Linked DNA regions of Homo sapiens. The gene in region 2 interacts genetically with the main gene of each other region. Each region holds a gene or a part of one and is shown on either strand. Other genes may lie near its edges.

Evidence for each region. Genes that interact genetically often act in the same process or in processes that back each other up.
Region 1: of NCAPG2 (region 2) and SMARCAL1, changing one suppresses a phenotype caused by changing the other (phenotypic suppression), as found in Homo sapiens cells (one study listed by BioGRID).
Region 3: of NCAPG2 (region 2) and TOP1, changing one suppresses a phenotype caused by changing the other (phenotypic suppression), as found in Homo sapiens cells (one study listed by BioGRID).

The regions. Positions count from the first base shown.
Region 1 is NC_000002.12:216,478,484-216,483,580, forward strand, and holds the end of SMARCAL1 (SWI/SNF-related matrix-associated actin-dependent regulator of chromatin subfamily A-like protein 1), read left to right. Parts: intron 1-4,254; coding exon 4,255-4,494; 3' UTR 4,495-4,570; downstream 4,571-5,097. UniProt on the Homo sapiens protein: ATP-dependent annealing helicase that binds selectively to fork DNA relative to ssDNA or dsDNA and catalyzes the rewinding of the stably unwound DNA. Rewinds single-stranded DNA bubbles that are stably bound by replication protein A (RPA).
Region 2 is NC_000007.14:158,701,797-158,708,827, forward strand, and holds the start of NCAPG2 (condensin-2 complex subunit G2), read right to left. Parts: upstream 3,009-7,031; 5' UTR 2,928-3,008; intron 1,907-2,927; exon of another isoform or gene 452-1,906; intron 143-451; 5' UTR 104-142; coding exon 26-103; intron 1-25. UniProt on the Homo sapiens protein: Regulatory subunit of the condensin-2 complex, a complex which establishes mitotic chromosome architecture and is involved in physical rigidity of the chromatid axis.
Region 3 is NC_000020.11:41,024,273-41,031,848, reverse strand, and holds the start of TOP1 (DNA topoisomerase 1), read right to left. Parts: upstream 3,028-7,576; 5' UTR 2,782-3,027; coding exon 2,749-2,781; intron 2,419-2,748; coding exon 2,394-2,418; intron 1-2,393. UniProt on the Homo sapiens protein: Releases the supercoiling and torsional tension of DNA introduced during the DNA replication and transcription by transiently cleaving and rejoining one strand of the DNA duplex.

The DNA of each region.
Region 1 (5,097 bases), on a different chromosome or scaffold from region 2:
GATGGCATTAGCTCCTACAGCTGCTGACATTCCCGCACAGGCTCTGAATGCTGCCTCTTCCAGCAGGCCATTAGAAACTGACAAAACTCCCCATGGCAAATGTTGAATTGTTTCAAAAAGTACACAGCAACACCACACATAGGGCTGCCACAGGAATGCATCCCCAGCACAGAATGGGGAGTGTTTAAAATAGGGTACTGGCTTCATAGAATATATTTTCCCTTCTGTCATTTTATTTATTCTCAGTGTCTCCCCACTTGATAGAGGGGTAAACTGAGACATGGCAGTATAGTAGGTTTGCACAAAGTCACAGGGCATGTGAAGCCAGCCCAAGGAAGAAGGCTTCCTGACTTGGCCCAGCATTCCTCCTTTGAGCTCAGCCCTTGTTGTAAAGGAGTATAAGAGGCATCCCTCCATGACCAGGCAGGCCTTGTCAAAGGTGCTGAGGGGGAAGGCTGTTGCCTCTGAACAGGACAGCCCTGGGCCCATCATGCCTGCCTGGTTTCAGTGCTGCAGCCCAGTGGCTGCCACAGACTCTTCCTCCCCCATTTCAGTGAAACACAGTGGAGTGAGCAAGAGACCCAGAGCCTTCCAAAAGCTTGTTTTCCTTCCCCAGCTTGGATTGTTGGCCAGAAGGTGAAAACCAGGAGTATGCCCTCCTCGAGCACAGCTCATGGTTGAATTGTTTCTGCCAGGAGAGTTTGAACCAGGTCTGAGCCTCATGCAGAAAGGGGCCTTACGGTAGCTTATCAGGAAAGTGAAGCACCTCCTCCTTCCTGTGAAATCACCATCAGAATATTGAGTTAGGCCACACATGGTGGTGCACACCTGTAGTCCCAGCTACTCCAGAGGAAAAGGTGAGGATCACTTGAGCCTAGGAGGTCAAGGCTGTAGTTAGCCATGATGGTCACTGTACTCTAAACTGGGCAACAGAGCAAGAGCCTGCCTCAAAAAAAAAAAAAGAGAAAGAAAAAAGTTTAAATAAATAAGAAGTTGAGTTAAATCTTATCGTTGACACCAAGACTTAAGACTCTGTGGATCTGCTCATTCACTTACATTTATTTAGCAAATAAATTCTTTCTTTGCAAGGATTTATTTGCTAAATATTGGGATAAATAAGACTCAGATCATATTTTTAAATGCAGACTGCAAATTATCCTTTCAGACATATATAGTTAATAAGCCAATTTTAAAACAACCTTATTTTTAAGCTTTTTAAAGAACTCTCCAGTTCAGCTGAATGGTAAATGGTAACAGAGCCTAGGTTATTACAAGCCTTTTGAAAAGAAATAGTCTGAGCAGGCATAGTGGCTCAAGCCTCTAATCCCACACTGAGGCGGACAGATGACTTGAGCCCAGGAGTTTGAGACCAGCCTGGGCAACATGGTGAAACCCCCATCTCTACAAAAAATACAAAAATTAGCCAGGCATGATGGCACATGCCTGTATTCCCAGCTACTCAGGAGACTGAGGCAGGAGGATTCCCTGAACCTGGGAGGCAGAGGTTGCAGTGGGCCAAGATCACACCACTGCATTTCAGCCTAGGCAACAGAGACAGACCTTGTCTCAAAAAAGAAAAAAAAGAAAGCCTATTTTTAAAGGATTCTCACTTGAACTCATTTATTCCTCCTTGCCTTTCTCTTACTCTAAATTGGTTAAGCATTTCTACCTAAAATATAAGTACAAGGTAATATAAATGAGTTTTATCAATATTTTGATCAATAACTATATCAATTTATTTTTTAATTAAGATGGGGCTGAAAATTTTATCAACTACTAGAAAAAGAAAATGTTGCTTCCAATATAGGAGACAAAAGCAGAAGAGGTTATATCTCACTGAGATAGCCTTCCTTCTGAGAGGGGAAATGAAATATTAATCTGATCTTGGAACTCGCTTCCAATTAATTATGCATGCCCCGAGTCAGCATACAGTGTTGCCATCATCATAATCAAATGCACATTAGCAGCTTTTTCTACTTGGAATAGGCTGCCTTGCAGGGTGGCGTTTCCTTGACATTGCAGTCATTCAGAAAGAGGCTGATGAGGGCATCCTGGAGGAGGACATGTGGGTTATTTGGGGGTCAGCCTTGATGATCTTTCATATCATTTCCCTCTCTGCAAGGCTGGGATCCTGAAAGGCTAGGAGATTTCGGGTGCAGGTTAATTGAATAATCTGGAGTTCTTACATGACAGGCTGTCATGATCAATTTTCAAGGAACTCTACTTCACCAATGTGGAGGGATTTGGTTAAGGAATAGTGAGGAACAGTGGCCAGGTACGTTGAGACCTAATTCTATAAAGGCCTGAAAAGCCAGGGGAGCAACTGTAGACTTGATGAGGTAGGGACAGCGGAGCCCAAAGACATGACCAAAAAAATCTTTAAAGGAGAGCCTGGGGGTAAAAATCAGCTGGCAAAGATCTGTAGGCTGTTTGAAATGGGAAGAAGCCTGAGGCAGGAAGCGCAGTTGAGCTGTTGCAAATCCATGCAGTACCAAGTGATGTGGCCCAAGTAAAGATGGTGCCTGAAGGAGAGAGGAGGGAACTAATGGGGGGAACAAACTTGCATAAGCCGAGGACTCTGTTTGCCTGGATGATTTCCACCTGGGAGACTACGAGAATGCAGGTAGACTATAAAAACTAGACTTATGGGAAGAGAAGCTGCTTTGAGAATATAGGAGATGAGAGATCATTTGATTTTTTATATTTATTTATTTATTTATTTATTTAGAGACAGGGTCTCACTCTGTCACCCAGGCTGGAGTACAGTGGCACTATGCTGGCTCACTGCAACCTCCGCCTCCCAGGCTCAAGTGATTCCCCCCATCTCAGCCTCCCGAGTAGCTGGAACTACAGGCGCATGCTGCCAACACCCGGCCAATTTTCTGTATTTTTGATAGAGATGGGGTTTTGCCATGTTGCCCAGGCTGGTCTCTAATTCCTGAGCTTAGATGATCCCCCCGCCTCGGCCTCCCAAAGTGCTGGGATTACAGGCGTGAGCCCTTGCAGCAGCCTTATTTTTATGTATTTATTTTTTTTTTGAGACAGAGTCTCACTCTGTCACCCAGGCTGGAGTGCAGTGGCGTGATGATGGCTCACTGCAACCTCTGCCTTGTGGGTTCAAGCGATTCTTGTGCCTCAGCCTCCCAAATAGCTGGGACTACAGGCACGCACCACCATGTCTGGCTAATTTTTTGTATTTTTAGTAGAGATGGGGTTTCACCACGTTGGCCAGGCTGGTCTCGAACTCCTGACCTCAGGCGATCCATCCGCCTCGGCCTCCTAAAGTGCTGGGATTACAGGTGAGAGCCACTGAGCCCAGCCAAAAGATCATTTGATTTTAAACCAGTTTAGTTTTATGAAACTGTGGGATGTCAGTGGAGATATGGAAAATATACCTCTAAATTGAAAAATGGTCAAAGTTGGAAATTTAGATGTAGGAAAAATCGGCAGAGGGGTGATAGTGATCGTGTGTTGTGGTTGTATCCACTGGGCATGGTTTTAACACTACACCATTGTCATCAATGTATAGATGCAGTTGGTGGGTATTTTGATTATTTGTAATTTAAGGTAATCAGAATAGGTACACATATCTACTTATGAATATGTTAAATGTGTGTATGTTTTTTCAACTACTTTGAAAATTAGGTATAAGCCATGGCTGAACACAGAGATTTGGAAGTTGGGGGGCTGGGCACATGGTGGCTCACACCTGTAATCCCAACATTTTGGGTAGCTGAGGTGGGCAGATCATTTGAGCTCAGGAGTTCGAGACCAGCCTGGGCAACATTTAGTGAGATCCCATCTCTTAAAAAATTATAAAAATAAAAATAAATTTAAAAATAGAGATTTAGAAGTTGAATTATACCTTAACTGACCCTTAGTAGAGAAAGGCTTTGGAGGAAGTGAGATCTTGGGTGCTATTTCAGTATTGAAATAATGATTTGGAAAGTTCAAAGGGAGAAAACATTTCCAATGTAAATTATAGCGTGAGAGCAGCTTCTTTGTTGCACTCACAACCATTTCTTTTTCCTAACTCAATGAGCACAGAGAGGGTAAGATGTCAGACACTAAAACAGTGAGGCTGCTTTAGTGATGGTTTGCTGAGATGATGCACACTTGCCATCGTGTAGCTCCCTGACACCATGAAATGTGTGGTCTCTCATCTTTATATTCTCTCATCAGCCCTAGTGGAGGAGAGTCAGTGTTGGAGCCTGGGCTCTTCCTTTTATCTTTTGTTTTCTTTCTCTGATGAAGGACCCAAAGCAGCAGAAGATCTACGACCTATTCCAGAAGTCCTTTGAGAAAGAAGGAAGTGATATGGAGCTCCTGGAAGCAGCAGAGTCCTTTGACCCAGGAAGTGCTTCAGGAACATCTGGAAGTAGTTCCCAGAACATGGGAGACACCCTGGATGAAAGCTCATTGACAGCCAGTCCACAGAAGAAAAGGAGATTTGAATTTTTTGATAACTGGGACAGCTTTACGTCTCCCCTGTAAAAGGGGCAAAAAGAAAAAAATAAAAAGCATTTTAAAATCATGGAATTGAAATAAAATAATGTATTTTGTTTTAAAACTTTTTGAGCTTCTCTTGCCATTGCAGCAGTGCCTATGCCTGTGTCCAGGCTCAGCAGGAGACCAGGCCGAGCATCAGCTTTCCATTCCTGTGTCATTACGTGTGGGCTTGCTTGGGGTCTTAACCTCCGCTCTTCTGGCTTAGGGATGGACACAGCGAGTTGTAGTAGTGGGTAATTCATGTTCTCTAAAGAATGAGGTCCTTCCTACACAGTCCCCATAATCTAGAATTTTAAAATTTAGTGACTCAACAAATATTTATAGGGCACCTAATTTGTGCAGGCACTGTCCTAGGTGTTGGTAGTCATTCATCCAACAAAAGACAAAAGCGTGAGCCTTTGCCGAACTTACGCAGCGGGAGAGGCAATGGTTGTAGGTTCTCTTTTCCAATATAACTCTTCATGGACACTGAAATTTGAATTTTATTAATGTTCACGTATCACAAATTATTTTTTTTCTGCCATTTAAAAATGTGAAAACCATTCCTTGTTTACCAGCTGTACAGAAACAGACAGTGGGCTGGAAGTT
Region 2 (7,031 bases):
AACAAAACTAAAACATGAAACTTACATCAAGTTGAACAAATTGCAAAAACTCTCCAACCAGCTCCTTAGACACGGCTTGTACAAACGTCTCACGTTTTTCCATGACAGATGGCACTGTTCAAATGGCATTTATTTTGTAACCCTAATGGAAAACACAATCATACTGAAACACTTGCAAATATATCTTTTCCTGTAAGATTTAATTTGATATTAACATCCAAGAACTGCAAGAAAATTCCTCAACCACGTATGGCAGACAGTTTCTAAAAACATTCTGACATAAAACACGCTATAATATCTGAAAAACAATTTACTTATTTCCTTTACTGGGGATGTGAATAACATGATATTAATGATATTTTATCAACAATTGTTAATAAAATTACCAACTAAGGAGGGAGAAATCCAAATAGCCTTAGGAAGCTCACCACCATCTCTCCCTTTTTAGTACCTTAGCAAGATGCTGGCTCGGCAGAGCTGAGTTGATTCAACAAAAGAACAATCTGATCCCAGCTGCAGATTCTGAAGATGCTCCCTTTCTAAAGGCCATTCCTCCATCAAAAAAATCCCACTGTTAGTGTCATCTTGTTATTCAAAGTGAGATGGAAAACAGTGGCCCCGGGGGTCACCTGGGATCTTGTTAGACTATGCATTAGGCATGCTCAACCACAGCACCCTCCTCCCACCCCTTCGGGATAATGAGAGCTCAGGGGACTTTGTATACCCTCCATCCTGCCTGTGTTTTTCCAGGAAATTCTATTTCGCATTCACAATACCTGGTGCTACTGGTGCCCTACTGAAAAAACATCAACCTAAAGATGAGGTAATAGCAAATGATGGAACACATTTGCAGTAGGAGCCCCCTCACTTTAAAAATAAATGAAAACCACCTGCACCATTATAAATAGAGCAATATGGAAAATTATTGCCAATAATTATGGGGACAGAGAGTCATCTTAAACATATAATACTAGATTTTAATGTCCAAATTGAACAAAGCAAAAATAACCTCAGTTTAATGACTCCCGAAATAAGTTAACAGTGAAGTCTGGTCATCTCATTCCTCAACTCAAATGGCTGAACTATGAACTACGGTCATGGACCACATAACATTTCAGTCAACAACAGACCACATGTATGACCGTGGTCCCATAAGATTATAATGCCATATTTTTACTGTGCTTTTTCTATGCTTAGATATGTTTAGCGATGCAAATACTTGCCATTGTATTACAGTTGCCTACAGTATTCAGTACAGTAACATTCTAGGAGCAGTAGGCTACACCATACAGCCTATGTGTGTAGGCTACACCTCTAGGTGTAGGCAAGTCCACTCTGTGATGTTCATGCAATGATGAAATTGCCTAACGACAACGTGTCTCCCTCTTTAAATCAAGCATGACTGGCACATTTTTCACTGACAAAGAAAATGGGGAGGGAAGGGAGAGTGGCCAGTAACAAGCATAATGAATAGTGGCTAGGACAAATTCATGATTTTAGAAAAATAATCCAATAAGGTGCAGCAAACACATGGAATCATACATCTTCGCCCGGCAAGTCTGTGAACACTCTCCACTTTTTCATAGTTCTGGTCACTTTTCTTGTTTGCTCTATTTCCAAGTGTACCTCTTTGGCATGTTAGTCCAACTTACAGTAATACACTTCCTCTAGACTACCAAACTTATTCCTATATTTCCCATTTTCCCTCTTATATTAGTGACTGTAATTTTTTAATGGTTAATTTTTCAATCTATCTCCCAAAGTGGCAATATTCCATGTTTCTTGTACCATATGTGCATAAGACCTCAGCCCTGCAGCCAGAATGCTACTTTCAAGGTAAGGAGTCATCTCACCATCCAGTTATCAGTCCGAAGAGCAGGTTACTCTTCGCACAGGAGGTCTGGTACTAAATCAAGATGAGCATTAAAAAGAAGAAATCCCTGTTACCTTCTCACCACCTGTGACTTCCCACTCCGTCCCCAAACTCCTTCCTCATGGACACAACAAGAGGCACCAAACCAGCAACAAGAGTTCAGGAGACTGATGTCTCTGAGGACAATGCCCACGTCCACAGCTGGGGAGATACTCTCTGAGGGCAGTGCCTACACCCAGGGCTCAGGGGGACTCTCTCTAAGGGCAGTACCGACACCCAGGACTGAGGGGACTCTCTCTGAGGGCAGTTCCCATGCCCAGGACAGAGGGGGTCGCTCTCTGAGGGCAGTGCCCATGCCCAGGACTGAGGGGACGCTCTCTGAGGGCAGTGCCCATGCTCAGGACTGAGGGGGTCGCTCTCTGAGGGTAGTGCCCATGCCCAGGACTGAGGGGACGCTCTCTGAGGGCAGTGCCCATGCCCAGGACTGAGGGGGTCGCTCTCTGAGGGCAGTGCCCATGCTCAGGACTGAGGGGGTCGCTCTCTGAGGGTAGTGCCCATGCCCAGGACTGAGGGGACGCTCTCTGAGGGCAGTGCCCATGCTCAGGACTGAGGGGGTCGCTCTCTGAGGGTAGTGCCCATGCCCAGGACTGAGGGGACACTCTCTGAGGGCAGTTCCCATGCCCAGGACAGAGGAGGTCGCTCTCTGAGGGCAGTGCCCATGCCCAGGACTGAGGGGACACTCTCTGAGGACGGTGCCCATGCTCAGGGCTGGGGGGTCGCTCTCTGAGGGCAGTGCCCGCGCCCGGGGCTGGGATTTTCCTCCGACACGGACAAGAAGGACGGGCGTCGCTGAGCTGGGTAGGGGGGATGGCCCGGGGTCGCCAGTTCCGTCCAGTTCCGTCAGAGGCAGCACTGCCCGCACGCAGGTCGGCCGCCTCCTTAGGGGAGGGGAGGCTGGGACCCCGACCAGCCGAGGAGGGGCTTCCCGCCCGATCCCTGCTACTTCCCAGCCCCTGCTCTGAACCCAATCCCGGCTCGGCACCGCAGCTCTTACCTGGGCTCGGGGACCCGCCGTTTCCCGCGCTCGGACCAGATTCAAACGCACCCGCCGGCGCCCCAGACGGGCCCCGCCCTCCCGGTCGTCATCAGGCGCCGCTCTCGCGAGAGCTGGGGCGCCGCGAGCCTCGGGCCTCGCCCACACGCCCGGCCCGCCCCGCCTCCAGATCATGCCCCGCCCACATGCCCGCCAGTCTTCTTCCTGTCTATGCCCCGCCTCTTAGGGCGCGGCCTCGAGCAGCTAAGCCCAGTGCCCTACCGGGCACTACGGAACGCGCACGCGGGGCGCCACAGCTGGGGAACCCATGCCCGGTCCGCGCGCCGACGTCCACTGCGCGCTCGTGCGCGTCCTGGGGCCTCCGCGGAGGGAGTGCGCGGTCCAGGAGAGGGCGGGGCGCTGCGAGCGGGCGGTGTTGTGGGAAGGAGGAAGGAGAGGAAGAGAGAGAGGGGGAGAGAAAGGAAAGGCTTGGGGCGGGGAGAGGCCACAGGGCCGTGTCTGGATCCCCGGGAGGACCCCACCCCGACCTGGCCGGCCCCCGTGACCGCCCTCCCTGCCGAGGGGGCACCTGTCCGGGTGGTCCGCAGCCTGCACACGGTAGGTGCACCCTGGGCAGGTGCTTCCCCCGCAGGAGCCCCTCCGGCCAGGTGCGGCCCCTAACAGGTGCTTCTCCTGCAGTTGCTCCTCCAGCAGGTGAGGCCCCCGGCAGGTCAGCTGCCCATAGGGTGGAGAGGGAGAGGCCTTAGCGGGGACCCTCGGAGGCACCCGTGTGAAGGAGGAGTAGCAATGTCATTCAATTCTTTGGACTTAAATGCCAAAATCACATACTGATGTATCAATCTCTTTTAATTTGTGTCAGCGAATAACTTGATTGGGCGTTCCCAATTTTTGTTGAAAGCAAATTCTTAGAAAACGGTGCTCTTTACCACCGAGCTCTGCATCCCTTCGTGAGGACTTGGCCTTCCCTGGAGCTATATTCTTTCATGCTTGAGATGTCTAGAGTGGTATCTGTTTTCCTGGCTTAACTCAAGCCAGAGGTCTTGGCGAGATTGAAGTCGTTGCACTGTGGGAGCACAGCACCAACCAATAGGAACATCATGGGAGCCACAAGTGCACTTGTAAATTTCTAGTGACCACATTAGAAAAATGAAGATAAATAGGTGACATTAATTTTTAAATATGTTTTATTTAGCCTAGTATATCAAAAATATTTATGTTACTTGTTGGAATATCGTTTCAACAAGCAATATAAAATTATAGCAGGGAGAAGACTGGTTTACTAGGAAGCTTGCAACAGTGAAGCAAGGCAGGCTGCAGAGGGGAGGGAGAAGACCCACTCAGAGGATGCTGAGTCTGGGACCCTTGTCAACAGGTGGCCGATATCTAACATTGCCTATTTCATCCTGGGGCTCCAGCCACCTCTGACCTCCTCCTCCCTCCATACACAGATCCTTCCCTGCCATTTCTTGAATTTTGGTGCCCTCATCTTCTCACTGCTTTCTTCTTAGCAATTTCCTTCATATCCAAGGTGCAAACTGCCACCTTCAAGCAGTGACCTCTGCATCTGGATTTGCAAGACACGGTTATTTCTGAACTCCAGAATTTTCAACAGCTCACTGCCTACTCCCACGCTGGTGCTGACATGCATCCAAAACAGATATCGACTTCCCCTCCCACCCCTGAATCCTGCCCCTTTCCTTATGCTGGTCCCTCCTCCAATCAGCCATCTGTTCCTGGGGTTTCCACTTCCTGAGTAGGAATAATGTAACAAGTTACGCATGTGAGCTCTGAAGCTGTACCACCTGGGCTAACCTGGTTCTGTGCTCACTAGCTGGTGACCTTTGACAAGCCATGGACGACTGAGCCTCAGTTTCCTCATCTATCAAATGGGACCTACTTAAGTACTGAGCCTCCTCTAGGGGGTTGTTATGAGGCCTAAATGTCTGTATAATGCAGAGCTCAGCCTCCTCTAGGGGGTTGTTATGAGGCCTAAATGTCTATGTAGTGCAGTGCTCAGAGGCACGTGGAAGCAGGGCAGCAGGAGCGCCCAGTGCACCCCCAATGCACCTGCCCATGCAGCCACTAATGTCATAGGATCCTTTGGGTATCGCTTCACCAGCTAGAAACCTCCGTGGCCAGCGGTGCCTCTGCTAGAGTTTTGCTCGAGCCCACTCAGCCCAGCAGGTTGCACTCGGCTTGCACTACCAACCCAGATCCCACGCCTGCCAAGGGTGAGCCAGGTGCAGAGCGGCAAGGGGTATGTGAGCAAGCGAGCATGGGGTCCAACCACTGCGCACACCCAGCCATGCAGCTGCTGTGGTGGAGCAGGCAGCTCTAGGTGCCTGCACAGCTGCCGGCTCCATGCAAGGCTGTGGCTGGACCAGAGGTACCACAAGTGGCTTCCACTGCAGGCATCAGCATCTGGACAAGGGGAACATGGTGGCACCCGAAAGCTCACAGATGCCAGGAGCCACAGAGCCCCAAAGGGGGGTTACACTGTGTCACAGCCCTGGCTCGGGGAGCCCCGAGGTCTGGGCTCCCAGAAGGGCCACAGCTCTTCTGTCCTTCTCATCACCCACAGCGTGGCTAGCAGGGGGTCGTGTTTCCGGGGCGGCATGTTTCACCTCATTTGTGTTACAGGTCTTTTGGTCCTGCCGCCCCACACCGGTCCACGGCTCCTTGGCTGTCCCGGCCCCACCGCTGCTTCCCACTGCATGGGGTGGCCACTGGGCGCCAGCAGAGGGTGGGAGGGCTATAGCATTATAGCTCTGGCTTGGGGAATCCCAAGGCCTGGGCCTCTACAAGGGTCACCACTCTTCACTCCCTCAGTCTGGGAGCGTGTCACCACCCGCAGCTCAGCGACCCGGCCAGGAACCCGTTACAGCCACTTTGGCTCCCACCTGCAACTTGGCAAGCTGGCCAGGAAAGTATTACAGCTCGTTTTGCTCTCACCATTCAGCAGGTTCCAAGTTCTTGTCCCATGTCCAGGAAGAATGAGGTTTGGCAGACATCTGGAGGGTGAGCAAGGCAGAGAACAGCTGACCAAATAGCTCTCAGTGGAGAGGAGACTCGAAGTGGGTAGCTCCTATCCACAGGCACGTATGGGCTCAGAATGGAGGAAGTACATGTTGATTGGTCCATAGACAGGAGGAAGTGTGTGCTGATTGGCCCATGGGCAGGCCTGGAAAAAGCACTACTTGATTGGCTGAAAGGCATCAAGTAAGTTCTCTTTCTGGATCTCGGACTTCACCAGGAACTGGCATCCTGGCCCAGGAACTTCAGGCTGTCCCTGGCTTGAAAGTGGGGTTTCACCAGGGACCTGCCCCTTCCCACCCAGGAACCTGTCTGCCTCCCGCTGCCATCACCGTTCACTGGGAATGTGACCTTCCCCGCAAATAGATGACACTCCTCCAGAACTCAGCTCAAGCTTTACCTTCTATAGGGGTTTATTTCCTGAACCCCATAACCCTCACTGTAATGCAATCTCTTAGCCCCCTACCACAGGCCTCATCATCTCCTCCATGTCAAGCACTGTGTCATCCTTAGTCCTATATCCGTGGCGTAAGGCCTGGCACATTTTAGATGCTTGAAGAAAATATTTTCTGAATAAATGAATGAATGAGGCATGAGATCATCTGTGTTCTTAAAATCTTACAATGTGGTAAATTAGAAAAGGTTTATAGAATTAAAGGTGGACCACATGGCAAGGCAATATAAAACTAAGTTTCAAAGGGTATAAAACTTGGCAAAAATATCTTTGATAAAAATATAATATCTTTTTTTTTTTTTTGAGACATAGTCTCGCTCTGTTGCCCAGGCTGGAGTACAGTGGTGCTATCTCGGCTCACTGCAAGCTCTGCCTCCCAGGTTCACGCCATTCTCCTGCCTCAGCCTCCCGAGTATATGGGACTACAGGTGCCCGCCACCACGCCTGGCTAATTATTATTATTATTATTATTATTATTATTATTATTATTATTTGTATTTTGTTTAGTAGAGATGGGGTTTCACCGTGTTAGCCAGGATGGTCTCGATCTCCTGACCTCGTGATCCGCCCGCCTCACCCTCCCAAAGTACTGGGATTACAGGCGTGAGCCACCACGC
Region 3 (7,576 bases), on a different chromosome or scaffold from region 2:
CTCCTTTTTCAGCTCTGTAAGAAAATAGAGATTTGTGGCTTTTTATTTTTTCATGCTAGTATCATATAGTATCACTCTAGCATAGTGGCTCAGCTCATGGGATTTAGAGTGGCCAACTCACAGCCCTTGGGCAAGCTAGTAAATACACTGAAGCCTCAGTTTCCTCATCTACAAAACAGAAATAACAGGACCTAACTCACAAGGGTCCTTCCAAGGATTACATTTAATTAGATGATCCATGGAAAGAGCTGAGATTCATGCCTGGCAGTAAGTATTCAATAAATATTAGCTATTATTGCTATTAAATGTGAGCCAACACATTCTAAAAGTCAACATACGCAGATTACTTCAGCCTCTATAAAAATGTCAGTAAAGATCAATAACCTAGCCAGCTCACAATCATTCACGTGACTTAGGTGAGAACCATGTAAGTTAACTTTCTCACAAGAAAGGGCTAAACTTTGTTTCATTACTTACATTACCTACTCAGCCCAGCCTGACAGCCAAAAGAACACATTCCATATTAAAGATCCCACCTTCCTCTAGCAAGGTCAAAAGGACTTCTTACATCCTCACCTGCACATCCTTTCTTTGCTCCTGTATCCCAAAGAAACATGTCTATACTGTGGCTTTCTAAACTGCAGGCCTCACCTCCTCCCTCTTTTAAAATCGTGATAGGTTGGTTAAACGTACTTAAGAAACACTCCAACCCCTGACAATTCTCTGCGCCCAGTCTTCCACAACCCCCAGCTCAGAAGTCACCTCCTCTGAGAAATTTCCCCACCCTCAGACAAAATTAACTCCCCTATACTTCAAAGCATTTTGGGTACACATATGCCCCAGTAGTTACCTTATAATTAACTAATTATGTCTCCCCCAATAGACTGAATTGAGAGCAAGGGAGTGTTATGGTTACAGGATCAGCTCTAGCACCAAGCACAGTGGTTGGCACATATCTGGTGCTCAAGAAATGCCATACTTTAAACCAGATTCTCTCCTGGCTGAGTACCATCTCCTGCTGGATGCCCCACTTCAAACTCTGAACATAAGGTTGCTCTCAGTAGAGCAGGCTAACATGATGGACTGCTGATTACAACATTAGAAAACCTACTCATCAACTTCTCCCATTGGAGAGGTTCCCGGAACCCAAACTCAATTGAGCAGGATTATGTACCATCAAAATCAGTGGGAATTCCCAGCACACTACAGAAGGTAACTTCTCCTTCAACAGGGTTGTTCGAAAGCCTGCAAGGATGAGCTTTTTATTGGAGGACTCTTCCCTGGGTAACTGAAGTGGAAATACAGTAAGAATAAATGCCTTGATTTGGCTGAAAAGGGTTCAAAAACATAAAGAATTGGGAAAAAAAAAAAAAGCCAGTTCTTGATTCCTGAAAAACAGTGGCTCGTGAAAAAGAATGAACAGGAAGCAGGGGTGGGTACTGGACACTCTTTGCTTCAATAAATAAAATCTTTTTTTCCTCCTTACAACCCAAACGAAAAGGCCAACACACCAGGTCCACAAGAGATGCTCAACAATCTTTCCTTCCAACAAGTACACTAAACTGCGTTTCCAGAAAAACACTGCATTGGGAACCTCGACCACAATGAAAAGTTCCAGTGACTAACATAATTTTTTAAAAATCCAACATTTACATTGGGTGACCCACAGAGAACTTGCAAACTTTCTTTAGGGAGGTACTGCTACCTTTGCAAAGAACGTAACTTGGGAAAAACAACCTGGAAATATAAAGAACTCCACAAAGCGTGGCTTTAGTTTTAGAGCCATAATTCCTATCATAAACAGCCTATCAAAAAAAAAATTAACAGTTGCTTAAGGAAATCTTTCATTCTGGAAGCAGAAAAGGAAACAAACATGAAGCATAAAGGGAATAACCCCCAAAATAAAGTTTAAAAAATAATAATTCAGTCCCCCAGCCTTCCCTCTCTGGTGAAGTATGTGATTTATACGGCTTTGCTCTGCAGAAAGCTCATTCTGGGCAGCTCAAGGAAAGAGCCGAGGGAGGGAGAGAAAGAGACACAGGCACAGAAAGGAGAGGAGAGAGAAAAAGAAAATGGCGCAGAGACTAAGTCCCGACCGTCGACAAGGCGACTTTCCCGGGAGGAATCCCGGCCCGGAAAGACCGCCCGAGGCCCGGTGGCGGACGACACGGGGTCTCCGTTGTCCCCTCTTGGGAGGGCCGGGATCTGGAGGAGCTGGGGTCCCCGGAAAGGGGGTCAAGAGGCGGCCCGATGGGAACAATGGGGCCGGTGAGCGAGGAGCCGGGACTTAGTCTCTGGGACGCCATGTCTGTCCTCTGCCCGGCACCGGCAGGGCGCGGGGGAGGCGGCCGGCGGCTGGGGGGCCCCGGAGTCGGCGCAGGGGGCACACTCACCATTCAATCGGAAATCCGCTTCGATCTGGAAAAAGAAAAGGAGAGAATATCAAACAACAGCCACTTTAACCCCTCCGGCGGCGAGCGCGCGCGGCCGGGGTCTGGCTCACCCTGCGCCCCCGGGGAGGACGGGGACCCGGGGGTGGCCACAGAGGGCAGCCATCCCTGCCTCGAACTGTAACTTCGCGGCCCTCGCTCGCGGCCTAGCGAGCCGATCTACTCCGGCAGGCGGCCCCTCACCGGGGGCTCCGGCCTGTCAAAGCTGCCGGGCCGGGGCTGGGGTCGGGGCCTGCGCCGGGGGTCGCGGGACGGCCAGGCCGGGGTCCGGGGCCGCCAGGGTCAGGCCGGGCCGTACCTGGGAATCGTTGTGGAGGTGGTCCCCACTCATGTCGGCCCGGAGGGACGAGCGCGGCGGCAGGCGAGGCGGCGTGGGGGAGACGCAGACGGCGAACCGGCCTGTGCGGGCGGACGGGGACTCCGGAGGCTCGAGGAGGCGCAGGTAAGCGGCGGTGACTGTGGGCCCGAGACTCCAGAAACGGCTGAGGCTGCTACCACGGCGGCGACGCTGCCTGACTGCCGGGCGGGCGGCGAGAACAGACCCCAGCAGTTGTGTAACAGCCTAAGTTCGCATTTGGGCTCACTGCGCCTGCGCGGCCGCTTTTAAACAACACGTCGGCGACGTCAGCGCTCGCGGAAAGAGGCAGAGGGTTGCGGCCCGCCCCCTCGCTGTTCGCCAGACGGACCTGTCTTTGCATCGCAAGCCCCGCCTCCGGACCGTGCGCGCTCCGCTGTGATTTGCATAAGGAGCCGACTCCTCCCACGGCGTCCCACCCCAAGCAGCCTCCCCTTCCTCTCCAGACGCTTTTTCTCGGAACCCCAGCCCCTCTGCTAGGCAGTGCGCAGGCGCCACCCGGGCACCGCCTCCGGACCAGGGCTGGCCGCGCAGCCACGTGGTGGGCCTTTAAAGGCCGCGGCGGGACCCAGCAATCTTGGGCAGAGCTGGTATCCGGCGTCCGCATCTCCTTGGAGCGGCGAGTACCTTGGCAGCTGGGACCCCAGAGGTCTCCCCAGCGCCTCCTTTCTTGCTAAGCCGACCCTGAGGCCGCCTGGTGGGAGGAGTCCCCTCCCCAGCCTTTGTCCAGGCCCTCCAACTTCTGGATTATTTCACGCCCACTTTTTAAAAATTATTTTAATTTTTCAACCAACCAAGGGTCCGGTTTAACCCCAGTTTTCCGCCGAGTACATGTAGCCCTGGGTCACCAAGGGTCTGATTTCTTTGGTTCATTCTACAAATACTTATTGAGCATCCGCTATGAGCCCAGGAATTGTGCTGAGGGAAGGGGGAATGCAAGAGACCAAAGGGAACTGAACCTGTCTCTATCCGCCCCTGTATCCCTGGCATGCTGGGAGGACGGGGCAAATGGGGAATAGAACTACCGTTTATAGAGCATCTATTCTGTGCCCAGCTCTGAATTCTCACAATAGCTCTGTGAGGTCGCCTGTATTACAAAAGTCAAACTGTCCTAAAGACAAGGGACCAACAGCCAGCTACCTTGCATCTATAGTTGGATACCTCTCAAGCTTCTCTGGGAATGAACTGAACTCCACTCAGCTAGAAAAAGCCCCATCCTGACACCTTCCTTTCCCTCATTTCCCACTAGTCCCGCTGATTGCATCTCTTTGCTTCATCTACTTCTCTCTGCTGCCCATAAGCCTTTGAAGTCTGCGTTCTCCTGCTTGGATTAATACAATGTGCTGGCTGGGGGTGGTGTCTCACACTTGTAATCTTAGCACTTTGGGAGGCCGAGGCTGGCAGATCACTTGAACCCAGGAGTTCAAGACCAGCCTGGGCAACATGGCAGAACCCTGACTCTACAAAAAAATACAAAAACTGGCGGGGTGTGGTGGCATGTGCCTGTAGTCCCGGCTACTCGGGAGGCTGAGGTGGGAGGATCACCTGAGCCCGAGGAGGAGGTCGAGGCTGCACTGCACTCCAGCCTGGGCAACAGAGTGAGACCTGGTTTAAAAAAAACAAAAAACAAACCAACAAAAAACACCGCACTCCAAAACACTACACTTCTAACAGGGATTGCTGCTTCCATTCTTGGCCCTCTCGTAAACTGCATTCCAACAATTGCCAAAGTGATCTTCTCAATATGCTAATCTAACCATTACTCCTTTGTGGATATTGCCACATCTATTACCACTTTCACTATTATTATTTCATATTTTAATTGATCTCCTTTTTATTTACCTTCATCCTAAGTGTTATCTGTGAAATAATATCTATGAAATCATTTGGAAGTAAATATGAAAACTGTTCATCCAGTGGACCATCAGTATCTTTATCACATCTAATGTTTACCATCACATGTTTACCATTAGATGTGTTTACCACATCTTGTGAATGCTTCAAGATCAACCTAAATATCACTTTTTCAAAGTGACTCTCCGGCGCACTACTGACCCTGCTTCCACTGGCTGACCAAGGGTGCCTTATAGGCCAGGCGCGGTGGCTAACGCCTGTAATCACAGCACTTTGGGAGGTCAATGTGGATCAATCACTTGAGGTCAGGAGTTCAACAACAGCCTGGCCAACATGGTGAAACCCTGTCTCTACTAAAAATACAAAAATTAGCAGAGTGTGGTGGTTCACACCTGTAATCCCAGCTACTCGGGAGGCTGAGGCAGGAGAATCGCTTGAACCTGGGAGGCAGAGGTTGCAGTGAGCCGAGACCGCACCACTGTACCCCAGCCTGGGCAACAGAGCGAGTGAGTCTCAAAAAATAAATAAACAAATAAAAATAAAAGGTGCCTTATAGTATCTATCTCCTTTGTAACACTTATGACACTTGTTATTAAGTTACAAATGTAGTAATTGGTTTCCTGTCTATTTCCCCTATAGCAAGCAAGGTCTGTGAGAGGGGGGAATCTTGTCCATCTTGCCTACCACTGAATTCCCAGCACCCAGCAACAGGCCCTCCTACAGAAGAGGTGCTCAAGAAATGGGCAAATCAAAGCAGGTTACCCTGCTTTGGTTAGGAGCACACATTTGGAAGTCAAATCAACTTAGGTTTGAATTCTGCTCTGCTGTTTGTTACCTGTGTGATATCAGGCAAGTTGTTTAACTTCTCTGAGTCCCTGTTTCCTCATCCACTCCATGGTGATCATTGTGGGTATGTAATGACTATCAAAAAATAATGGTTTGAGGGCAGGCACCTAGTAAGTGCTGAGTCTTGGATTCATACTCAGGTCGGCCTGACTCCAAAGCTATACTCTTTCTCTGAAGCAAGCTGCCAGAGCCAGTTTTGCCTTGCTGTTGGTGTCTCTTCTCATACTCTTCCCATCTCAGGATCAATCCCTGGCCAGAAGATGAGGCATCTGCTTGCTGCAGTGAGTCCAAGATAATTTGAGGACGGCCTTCAGGAATAACAATGCATCCACACTACTCCACTCTCCCAACCCCCCGTTTCCCAGGGAGAATCTGCATTTGCTTTTTTTTCTTTTTTTTTTTTTTTTTGAGATGGAGTCTCTGTCACCCAGGCTGGAGTGCAGTGGTGCCATCTGGGCTTACTGCAACCTCCGCCTCCTGGGTTCAAGCAATTATCCTGCCTCAGCCTCCCGGGTAGCTGGGATTACAGCCACGTACCACCACACCCAGCTAATTTTTGCAATTTTAGTAGAGACAAGGTTTCACTATGTTGGTCAGGCTGGTCTCAAACTCCTGACCTCGTGATCTGCCCACCTTTGCCTCCCAAAGTGCTGGGATTACAGGCATGAGCCACTGTACCCAGCCTGCATTTGCTTTCCAGGCCCCTCCAAAGAAGACTAGGTAGGCATGAAAACAGCACAGACTTCACAATGGCAGACCGAGGACATCCCCGTGCACAGACATGGAAATATCCGGGCAGTCTTGTCACAGGCTGAACTTCTCTGCCAGCATGTGTGGCTGGCAGTGCTCAGAGGTTGACTGACTTACTCTGTCTTACAGAGACCACTCCTGACTCCTAACACTTCAAACACATGTCCCCACCATATGGTACTTGAGGAGATTATTGATAGTGCATGGACAAGCATTTTAATTCTAATAGATATGTATTTCGATGTGTATGAGAAAAAATAACCATTGTTTTAAGGATATAACTGGGATGAGGCTTTTTAAAAAAGTGATTGATTTACATAAAAACATATAGGAATAGTGCACAGAGCGGACATATAAGACAAACTCCAGGAAGGCTATAGGCAAATAAATGAGGTTTGGGAAACACTGCTTTAAATCAAGACTGTTCACTCATGGACCATCCCAACCCTTATAAAAATAACTAGCAGGTGAAAACTGGTAGTGTAGGTCTGTCTCCAAAGTATGCATTGGGAACAGTGGACGGTTTATAGATAATCCACTAAAAGAAGAGCTCCACATACAAATACATACATTATTATATTTACAGTTAAACAGGTTTTTTCCCAGGTGCCTTCTCAGGGTCTTCCATATGTAAATACTTACGTGACTCTTGAAAAGAGGGACATGGTGTGCAGCATCTCCAAAATGTAGGCAAACCCGGCCAGGAGCGGTGGCTCATGCCTGTAGTGCCAGCACTTTGGGAGGCCGAGGGCGGGGGTGGATCACCTGAGGTCAGGAGTTCGAGACCAGCCTGGTCAACATGGTGAAAACTCGTCTCTACTAAAATTACAAAAATTAGGCCGGGCGCAGTGGCTCACGCCTGTAATCTTAGCACTTCGGGAGGCCAAGGCAGGCAGATCACCTGAGGTCAGGACTTTGAGACCTGCCTGGCCAACATGGTGAAACCCTGTCTCTACTAAAAATAGAAAAATTAGCTGAGCATGGTTGGCACACACCTGTAATCCCAGCTACTTGGGAGACTGAGGCAGGAGAACTGCTTGAATCCTGGAGGCAGAGGTTACAGTGAGCCAAGATGGCGCCACTGCACTCCAGCCTGGGTGACAGAGCGAGACTCCATCTTGGAAAAAAAAATGTAGGTAAATCCAAAAACACTTTTTTCCAGACTACCTCTTGAGACTTGGGCTTTTTGGGGGTGGTAGAGAGGGTGCACCATTCCTGGAGGTACTGCAATCCAGGCCAATGTGTAGAGTGGACAGAGCAAGCTCCTATTCCATCTCCTTGCTCCAAAAATCTATTTATTATATTATCCTCAGATAGAGGA